2 separate regions of the Homo sapiens genome follow, and region 2 is linked to region 1. The links come from fine-mapping of genetic effects on gene expression. A gene starts in region 1. The other region holds a variant in brackets. All regions are shown on one strand. Distances are from middle to middle. Region 1 holds the start of F2 (coagulation factor II, thrombin). Region 2 overlaps F2 (coagulation factor II, thrombin).

Region 1 (5,373 bases):
GTGGCCAGGTTGGTCTTGAACTCCTGTCCTCAAGTGATCCACCTGCCTCGGCCTCCCAAAGTGGTGGGATTGCAGGCATGAGACACCGCGCCCGGCCTGCCTTGTCCCTTCTTAAAATGAGTTGTCCATTTGTAAGCTGCTGATTTCTTTGGGACATTGTCTCCGTAAACTTTTCATAAAGCATCAGTGATTTCACCATTCTTCCACCCAAGCTTCACCGTAAATTTGTTGTTTGTTCTTGCTTCAATTTCAGCAGAATTCATTTAGCTCTGATAAGGGCTCGCTTCAAACTGATGTCTTATCCTTCTTAGTGCCTCAAACTACATCCTGTTCACTCATGTTATAGCAAGTTAGTGTGAGTTTATTTTGGTGCACAAAAATTTTTTTAAATCCATGCAGTCTTTTTTCATAATACGCATTTTCCATGAACTTTTCGAAGACCCCTTGTAGATGTCTGTTGTTTAAACCACCCAGTTTACAGTAATTTTTTTTTTTTTTTGAGATGAAGTCTTGCTCTGTCGCCCAGGCTGGAGTGCATTGGCACACTCTCGGCTCACTGCAACCTCTGCCTCCTGGGTTCAAGCAATTTTTCTGTCTCAGTCTCCCGAGTAGCTGGGATTACAGGTGTGTGCCACCATGCCTAGCTAATTTATGTGTTTTTAGTAGAGACGGGGTTTCACTATGTTGGCCAGGCTGGTCTCGAACTCCTCACCTTGTGATCGGCCCGCCTCGGCCTCCCAAAGTATTGGGATTACAGGCGTGAGCCACTGCACCTGGCCTACAGTAATTTTATAGCAGCCCAGGCTAAGATAGCCATTTCTGGGTATAAGAATGTCATATACTGAACAGGCCTGCAACTGTGAGTAAAAGTCTGCAAAGAGGCCGGGCAGTGGCTCATACCTGTAATCCCAGCACTTTGGGGGGCCGAGGCAGGTGGATCACCTGAGGTCAGCAGTTCGAGACCAGCCTGACCAACATGGTGAAACCCCATCTCTACTAAAAATACAAAATTAGCTGGGCGTGGTAGTGCATGCTTGTAATCCCTAGCATGCACTTGGGAGCTACTTGGGAGGCTGAGGCAGGAGAATCACTTGTACTCAGGAGGCCGAGGTTGCAGTGAGCTGAGATCACGCCACTGCACTCCTTTCTGGGTGACAGAGTGAGACTCCATCTCAAAAAAACAAAACAAAACAAAACAAAAACAAACAAAAAAACCCAACAGGTAGGTAGCAGTGGTTCACGCCTGTAATCCCCACTTTGGGAGGCTAAAGTGGGCAGATCACCTGAGGTCAGGAGTTCACGTCCAGCCTGGGCAACATGGTGAAACTCTGTCTCTACAAAAATACAAAAATTAGCCAGGCATGATGGCGGGTGCCTGTAGTTCCAGCTATTCGGGAGGCTGAGGCAGGAGAATCGCTTGAACCTAGGAGGTAGAGGTTGCAGTGAGCCGAGTTCACGCTATTGCACTCCAGCCTCCATCTCAAAAACAAAACAACAAAAACCCAAAATATATATTATAATTTTATTTTATTTATTCAATTTTATTTTATTTTATTTTATTTTTCTAGGAACAGGTCTCATTCAGGCCAGGCATGGTGGCTCACGCCTGTAATCCCAGCACTTGGGAGGCCGAGGTGGAGGTGGGCGGATCACCTGAGGTCAGGAGTTCGAGACCATCCTGGTCAATGTGGCGAAACCCCATCTCTACTAAAAATACAAAAATTAGCCAGGTGTGGTGGCACACGCCTGTAATTCCAGCTACTTGGGATACTGAGTCAGGAGAATCACTTGAACAGGGAGATGGAAATTGCAGTGAGCCGAGATTGTTCCACTGCACTCCAGCCTGGGTGACAGGGCGAGACTCCGTCTCAAAAAAAAAAAAAAAAAAGAAAGAAAGAAAGAAAGAAAGAAACAGGATCTTACTCTGTTACCCAGGCTGGAGTACAGTGGTGCAATCATAGCTCACTGCAGCCTGGAACTCCTGGGCTCAAGTGATCCTCCTGCCTCAGCCTCCTCAGTAGCTCAGACTGCAGGCATGCACCACCATTCCCAGCTAATTTTTAATTTTTTTTTGGTAGAGATGAGGGTCTTGCTATGTTGCCCAGGCTGGTCTCAAACTCCTGGCCTCAAGCGATCCTGCCATGTCGGCCTCCCAAAGTGTTGGGATTACAAGTGTGAGCCACTATGCCTGGCCTAAAAATATATATATGAAAATATATAAGAAATGGGCCTCCCAGGAATTAAGGTGTTTGCGGGAGTCCTGGTCCCCAGTTTTTCTGCCAACACTCCCTGTTCCCACACATGACCTGGTCCAGACCCCAAACAGCCAGGCCCAAAGGACAGGTGAGGCGAGGCGAGAACTTGTGCCTCCCCGTGTTCCTGCTCTTTGTCCCTCTGTCCTACTTAGACTAATATTTGCCTTGGGTACTGCAAACAGGAAATGGGGGAGGGACAGGAGTAGGGCGGAGGGTAGGGTAGGACCAGAAGCCTCTCTAGGCCTGCCATGGGGCAGGCAGCCAGGGAGAAGGAGGGCCCCTCAGTGGAGACCCAGGGATTTCAGTAGCCCCTGTTCCGGGACAGGCGCAGGTCCTGGGAGGTGACAGAAGATAGACTAAAGGCCCAAGAGTCCCTGGACCTGACTCCTCCCAGGCAGCTGCCACACACAAACACACCTCCAGGCACCCTGGACAGGAAGGAGGAGAAATGGGCCCCTCCTCCAGTGGCTGAGAAGCTGGGGCAAATGTTGGCTGTTCCTATCCCTGGTGCATCCCATGGCGAGGGGCAACTTCCATCAGGCCACACCTTTTATCTTTGTCTCTATTTTTGATATCTGTGTATTATGATTATACAAACCCCCACATTGGCCTATATGTGCAGATCTGATTAAGAACTTACGATATTCCATGGACATTCCATTCCTAATCTCCTTTAGTCCTCACAACAAAGTATTATTCCCATTGTATAGATGAGGAAACTGAGGCACACAGAGATGACAAGCAACCACCGCTATATGTTAGGATTCGAAGGAGCTCCAGGAAAGTCTCATAGCCCCACTGGCCAGAATGGGCTAAATCTCAGAGGGGGAGGGTGGGAGATGGGGGTGACAGTGACCTTTTTTGTGACTCCTCCTAGACCATCCATCCCTGCTCCCAGGAGGACCTGTCCTCCCAGATGGTGGAGATGGACAGGAGGACTATCTACCCACCCGTCCCCACGGCCCTGACCCTCTGACCTCACCCTCTCCGCTGATTTCTTCATGTTAGTTCAACATTAACCCAGAGGGGTCAGGACAGACAATTCCTCAGTGACCCAGGAGCTGACACACTATGGCGCACGTCCGAGGCTTGCAGCTGCCTGGCTGCCTGGCCCTGGCTGCCCTGTGTAGCCTTGTGCACAGCCAGCATGGTAAGGGAGTGCTTGCAGGCTGGAACAGGCTGGAGGACTGGGGTGTGGGCCCATGGGCTGGGGTCTCCTGGCTGGACAGAGCACACAGAGCTGGCCCCTAAGTAGGTCTCAGCCCCAGGCGGCCAGCTTAGGGAAGAAGTCAGGAGCTCAGGGCTGGAAAGAGAATGGCTGCTTCTCTCTTCCAATATAGGGAGCAGGCTGGGGGCAAGGGGCAGTGTAGGAGGGGCACAGGGGGCCACATTTAGCAGCCTTCCAGGCACTTCCACCAGCCCAGACAGCCTCTCTCAGAAGCCAGCAGGGGAGGGTGGGCTTGCTTCATGCCCCCAGAATGGCCAAGACTGCCTGTTCCTGAGGCCGCTGTCCCATGACCCCCCCACCGCCTTACAGTGTTCCTGGCTCCTCAGCAAGCACGGTCGCTGCTCCAGCGGGTCCGGCGAGCCAACACCTTCTTGGAGGAGGTGCGCAAGGGCAACCTGGAGCGAGAGTGCGTGGAGGAGACGTGCAGCTACGAGGAGGCCTTCGAGGCTCTGGAGTCCTCCACGGCTACGGTGAGCCTGGGCTGCTCGGACGGTGCCGGGGCCTCAGACCGGGCCCAACTCTAGACACTTCCACAGAGAAGCAAGCGAGGAACGCCACAGCCCCTTCGCTGCTCACAGCCTCATTTCAACTCTGAGCCCCTCCTCACAGGGCTGGCAAGAGGAGCGGCCTCAGCCTTTCCTGGGGGTCTCTGTGCCTGGACTGTGTCCCTGTGCAGCTCCATGACATGGGGAGGCCTCCACAGTCTTCAGACATCCACCTGCCCTGGAGCTCTGTGTCCACATGGCCTCCTCAGCGGCAGACTCCCACACCACCCTTGAGGGGTGGGACTCTGGGGAGGCCACCACAAGCCCCCGGGCTCAAGACTCAGTGTTCCTGGAGCTCTGTGTCGCCTTTCCTGTCTGTAGGGCTCTGCCAGGGTCCCACTGCCCCCTCTCCTCCCATCTCCCCCAGCCTCTTTCAGTCTCGGTGTGTGTGTTGGAGGAACTCCCCTATCCTCAAATATTCTTCTCCTTTTGGAAACAAAAGTAGGAAACTCTGCCACAAACCTCCCCAGAGCCTGCCCCCTGCGTGACCAGGGTAAAGGAAAGTGTGAGGAGGAGACATAACATTTACTAAAACAACACAAAACAGGAGCTGCCGTAGCCTCACTCCCAGCCCTTGTTTTTCAGGATGTGTTCTGGGCCAAGTACACAGGTGAGCACCGGGAAGGATTTGCCCCAGGAAGGGAGGCCTGGGGACCCCAGTGAGAGAATTCTACCCAGAGAATCTTCTGCTGCACCTAGCCATCCACCCATCCACCCCTTCCCCACTCCTTCCTTGGTCCCTCCCATCTGTTCATCCATCTTTCTGTTTCTCACCAACATCCCATCCACCCTGACTCCAGCTCATCCTGGCCATACCCCAATCCCAAAGGTAAACACCTGGGTCTTTTCCAGCTTGTGAGACAGCGAGGACGCCTCGAGATAAGCTTGCTGCATGTCTGGAAGGTGAGCAACTGACACGGGTTTGGGGAGCAGGACATGGAGGGGAGCCTGGGAGAAGAGCTCAGGGGTGGGTTTGGAGTGTGGCTGGTGGAGGCCGAGGCAGTCCCCAGCATCTGACATTGCTCCCATTCCTGGGGTCAAGATGTCTCTTTGTACCTGGCTCTGTGTCTGGCATGCGAACGAATGAATGAATGAATGGACTAATGAATTAATGTTTTTTTTTTTGAGACAGAGTCTCGCTCTGTTGCCCAGGCTGGAGTGCAGTGGCACGATCTTGGCTCACTGTAAACTCCGCCTCCCGGGTTCAAGCAATTCTCTGCCTCAACCTCCCAAGTAGCTGGGATTACAGGTGCTCGCCACCACGCCTGGCTAATTTTTGTATTTTTAGTAGAGACGGGGTTTCACCATGTTGGCCAGGCTGGTCTTGAACTCCTGACCTCGTGAT
Region 2 (5,373 bases), 22 kb after region 1:
AACTCCTGGGCTCAAGCAATCCTCTTCTTGCTTCAGCCTCCCACGTAGCTAGGATCAGAGGTACATGCCACCATGTCCGGCTAATTTTTTTTTTTCGAGACAGAGTCTTGTTCTGTCGCTCAGGCGGTAGTGCAGTGGTGCAATCCCGGCTCACTGCAACCTCCACCTCCACCTCCCAGGTTCAAGCAATTCTACCTCAGTCTCCTGAGTAGCTGGGATTATAGGCGCACACCAACATGTCTGGCTAATTTTTGTATTTTTAGTAGAGACAGGGTTTCACCACGTTGGCCAGGCTGGTCTTAAACTCCTGACTTCATGATCCGCCCGCCTTGGCCTCCCAAAGTGCTGAGATTACAGGTGTGAGCCACAGCACCTAGTGAAGGTGTGGTTTTTTTGTGTAGGTTTTACTGTTGTTAGTGTTGTTCTGTATTGTTTGTAGAGGATACGTGGGGAGATTTGGATAAAAGCAACTATCATTATTATCCTCATCAGACTTGTAGGTCTAACTTTTTAATTTTTTAATTTTTAATTTAAATTTTTTTCTTGGTCTTTTATCATTAATTAATTTTTTCGAGACAGGGTCTCACTCTGTTGCCCAGGCTGGAGTGTGGTGACATGATCACGGCTCACTGCAGCCTTAACCTCCCAGGCGCAAGTGATCCTCCTCTCTTAGCCTCCCGAGTAGCTGGGACTCCAGGCATGTGCCACCATGCCCAGCTAATTTTTTGTAGAGAGAGGGTTTTGCCATATTGCCCAGGCTGGTCTTGAACTGCTGAGCTCAAGTGATCCACCCGGCTTGGGCATGAGCCACCTCCCCTGGTCTGGTCCAACTTTTTAAAAGCATTATTCTGCCTGTTGGGTGGAGAATAGACTGTAGGTGGGCAAAGAATGAAGGAAACTAGTGGGTTCAGGAGCTCGAGCTAGAAGTGGTGAGAAGGGTTTGGATTTGGGGTCTATGCTGAAGGTAGAGCCGACAAGATTTGCTAGGATTGGATGGGTAGGGTGAGGAAGTGGGGACAGCAAGAATGACTGGAGGGGTAAGTGGACTCTCACCAGCTGTGTCTCGTGAAGGGGCGTGGCTGGGCTATGAGCTATGCTCCTGAGCACAGACGGCTGTTCTCTTTCAAGGTTACAAGCCTGATGAAGGGAAACGAGGGGATGCCTGTGAAGGTGACAGTGGGGGACCCTTTGTCATGAAGGTAAGCTTCTCTAAAGCCCAGGGCCTGGTGAACACATCTTCTGGGGGTGGGGAGAAACTCTAGTATCTAGAAACAGTTGCCTGGCAGGGGAATACTGATGTGACCTTGAACTTGACTCTATTGGAAACCTCATCTTTCTTCTTCAGAGCCCCTTTAACAACCGCTGGTATCAAATGGGCATCGTCTCATGGGGTGAAGGCTGTGACCGGGATGGGAAATATGGCTTCTACACACATGTGTTCCGCCTGAAGAAGTGGATACAGAAGGTCATTGATCAGTTTGGAGAGTAGGGGGCCACTCATATTCTGGGCTCCTGGAACCAATCCCGTGAAAGAATTATTTTTGTGTTTCTAAAACTATGGTTCCCAATAAAAGTGACTCTCAGCGAGCCTCAATGCTCCCAGTGCTATTCATGGGCAGCTCTCTGGGCTCAGGAAGAGCCAGTAATACTACTGGATAAAGAAGACTTAAGAATCCACCACCTGGTGCACGCTGGTAGTCCGAGCACTCGGGAGGCTGAGGTGGGAGGATCGCTTGAGCCCAGGAGGTGGAGGCTGCAGTGAGCCACTGCACCCCAGCCTGGGTGACAGAGTGAGACCCTGTCCCAAAAGAATCCACTATCTATCTTCAGAGCAGGGCCAGGTGAGAGGAAAGATGGCAGGTTGAATTTACAGGCATTAAAGATGTTCCACCCTCTGGGTTTTAATGGATTATCTCATTTAATCCTCACAAGAGGTAGGTGAGTAAACTGAGATTTGGAGAAGTACCTTGTCCAAAGTCACATGGCTAAGAAAGCTCAAAGTAGGACTTCAAATATAGAAAATATTGAGTGAGGACGGTGCTTTTTTAGTTAACTCCCTACATCTTCCCTTGTATCATTAAAATGATATCAGATCAGGTAGGGCATGGTGGCTCACACCTGTAATCTCAGCAATTTAGGAGACTAAGGTTGAGGCTAGGAATGCGAGATCAGTCTGGGCAATGTGGTGAGACCCCAAAAAATAAAATTAGCTAGGCGTGGTGGCATGTGCCTGTAGTCAAGGTTACTTGGGAGGATCACTTGAGCCCAGGAGGTTGAGGCTGCAGTGAGCCATGATCATGTCACTACACCTGCACTGCAGCCTGGGTGACAGTGAAACCCTGTTTATAAAAATCAGGGCTGGGCACGGTGGCTCAAGCCTGTAATCCCAGCACTTTGGGAGGCTGAGGTGGATGGATCACAAGGTCAGGAGATTGAGACCATCCTGGTGAACACGGTGAAACCCTGTCTCTACCAAAAATACAAAAAATTAGCCAGGCGTGGTGGTGGACGCCTGTAGTCCCAGCTACGTGGGAGGCTGAGGCAGGAGAATGGCATGAACCTGGGAGGTGGAGCTTGCAGTGAGACAAGATTGCACCACTGCACTCCAGCCTGGGCGACAGAGCGACTCTGTCTCAAAAAGAAGAAGAACCAACCATGCATACCAAAATCCA[C/T]AGATGCTCAAATCTCTTATATAAAATGGCACAGTTTACATATAACCTATGCACATCCTCCCATATACTTCATTTTTAAAATTTATTTTTATCTTTTTGAGTTGGAATTTTGCTCATTGCCCAGGCTGGAGTGCAATGGTGCGATCTCGGCTCACTGCAATCTCCGCCTCTTAGGTTCAAGTGATTCTCCTGCCTCAGCCTCCCGAGTAGCTGGGATTACAGGTGCCCGCCACCACGCCTGGCTAGTTTTTGTATTTTTAGTAGAGATGGGGTTTCACCGTGTTGGTCAGGCTGGTCTCAAACTCCTGACCTCAGGTTATCCACCCATCGGGGCCTCCCAAAGTGTTGGGATTACAGACATGAGCCACCCTGCCCGGCCTTCCCATATACTTCAAATCATCTCTAGATGACTTACACCCAATAGAACGTAAATACTATGTAAATAGTTATACTGTATTATTTTAAAATTTGTATTATTTTTATTGTTTTCTTTCCCCACAAATATTTTCAATCTGCAGTTGGTTGAATCTGCAGATGCAAAACCCACAGATCTGGAAGGCCACCTGTATATTAAAAGGTGTATATAACGACATTACTTACCTCATACGGTTATGAGGATTAAATGAAAGAACTTACATGGTGCCTTAGCACAATGCCTAGTGCCTAGTAAGCTGTGAATCACTACCACTCGTATTCTCACTATTGCCTGGGAACTGGACCGGGCATTGGGCCTGTTGAAAGTTCCTCTGCCGCTTACCTCGTCCCTCTCTTGGGCCCTGGAAATAGCCCATCAGTGGGGTAGTTGCTTCCTGGAATGTTTCCTCACACAGCAGTTCCCAGCTGGAACAATTTATTTTTCCAAGAAATGGGACCTCTAAGTTATAAGAGTCATGGGCTGGGCATGGTGGCTCACGCCTGTAATCCCATCACTTTGGGAGGCTGAGGCTGGTGGATCACCTGAGGTCAGGAGTTGGAGACCAGCCTGGCCAACATGGTAAAATCCCGTCTCTACTAAAAATACAAAAACTAGCCGGGTGTGGTGGTGGGCACCTGTAATCCCAGCTTCTCAGCTGCTTGGGAGGCTGAGGCAGGAGAATTGGCTGAACTCAGGAGGCAGAGGTTGTAGTGAGGAGAGAGGCATGCCACTGCATGCCATCCAGCCTGAGCGACACAGCAAGAGTCCCTTGCAAAAAAAAGAATCATAGAACTTCAAAGATACCCTTTCAGAGCACATTCTTCACGGTTACTGTTGGCAGAGGTCACAGGTGTGGGATGGAGCATGGCTCCGTCTTGAGAAGTCTCATCCATGAGCTCAGGGAAAGAATGAAGATCAACGTCTGCCTCAGGCACAGGATAGTGGAGTGGAGCAGGGAAACCCTGTGGCTACAGTACCTGGCCTAGGATCTTCTAACGTGGTTTTCCACGGGAAGGGACCTGAGATAGGGATCTTTAGCACCCTCCTCATAACGTTTTTTTTTTTTTTTCTCATTTTTCAACACATCAGAAAACAAACAGGACAGAGTTCCTTGGCCTCATTCTTTGGTTCTGGTTGACTGAAAGGCAGTGAGCTTGCAGGATTTGGCAGCCCAGGGCATCAACTCGATCAAGGGGGAAGGGATTCAGAATTACTTGTGACATGCAGGACCTGCTTTTTAAACAAGAACACACATTCTCATAAGTCTGTTTTCTTCCGACATAGCGGTCAGTGTTGTAAGCTCTAGGGACTTGGGTTTTTCCAGTCAGCTGTGCTAATTCCAGACAGGAGTACAGCCACTCTTTTTTTTCCTCTTCTTTTGTTTCCCTCCTCTTTTTTGAGACAAGGTCTTGCTCTGTTGCCCAGGCTGGAGTGTAGTGGAGTGATCACGGCTCACTGCAGCCTTGACCTCCTGGGCTCAGGTGATCCTCCCACCTCAGCCTCCCAAGTAGCTGGGACTACAGGCTTGAGCCACTATACCCAGCTAATTTTTGTATTTTTTTGGTAGAGCCATGTTGCCCATGTTGGTCTTGAACTCCTGGGCTCAAGTGATTCACCCACCTTAGCCTCCCAAAATGCTACGGTTGTATGAGTGAGCCACCAGGCCCAGCCTTTGTAGCCATTCTTTCTAAATATGTCTTTCCACTATAGCAGCAAACGCCTCCATCATCCCTTCAGTGAACAAATACCCACTCCCATGTTCCCACTATAAAGGAGAGACAAGTTTAATTTCAGGAGGCTCCGGGGCCACCTGAAAACGATGACTGGAACCTTTACAGGATTAATCTTCCATCAATCTTTCATTTCTTGGACATCAATTGAATTGAAGGTGGGCTACAATAGGAAAGTTCCTTTGAACTTTATAACTGCCCAAAATCTCCTCCTGAATCCAGAACCTTTTCATCCTGAAGAGTTTTTCTGACTGTGGAGGGAGGTCCTGTGGAATTTATTCCAGAGGTGAATACTCAGCTCACTTTCTCATCCTTACTCTGACTGAATGTGAAGCAACTGTTAGCCTGGACCAAAAGAGACTCATACAACCAAGCAGCAAACCACTAAGATTTCCCAAACTCCATTAGTCAAATGAACACAAATCTAGTTGTAGTGTGAGAACCACTGAAGCCCAGCCAATCTCTGGGCGCAATCTTGTGTGCCTTTGGTCAGCAAAGTGGTAGGATGCCCAAGAGCTTCTTGAAACGACTGGTGATAATTGGAGGGAAATCATGA

The links.
Region 2: its variant is fine-mapped to the expression of F2 in cerebellum (GTEx, PIP above 0.99).

Annotation. Positions count from the first base shown.
Region 1 is chr11:46,715,910-46,721,282 of GRCh38, forward strand. It overlaps F2 (coagulation factor II, thrombin), which reads left to right and starts at 3,304. Exons shown (of 14, transcript NM_000506.5): 1 at 3,304-3,405; 2 at 3,793-3,953; 3 at 4,614-4,638; 4 at 4,881-4,931. The coding sequence starts at 3,327.
Region 2 is chr11:46,737,920-46,743,292 of GRCh38, forward strand. F2 (coagulation factor II, thrombin) reads left to right here. Exons shown (of 14, transcript NM_000506.5): 13 at 1,129-1,199; 14 at 1,346-1,587. The coding sequence ends at 1,489. It overlaps CKAP5 (cytoskeleton associated protein 5), which reads right to left. Exons shown (of 44, transcript NM_001008938.4): 44 at 5,129-5,373. Among named protein-coding and RNA genes, the nearest start is that of MIR5582, 13 kb to the right of the region's middle. The variant C/T (reference allele first, on the strand shown) is at 2,673.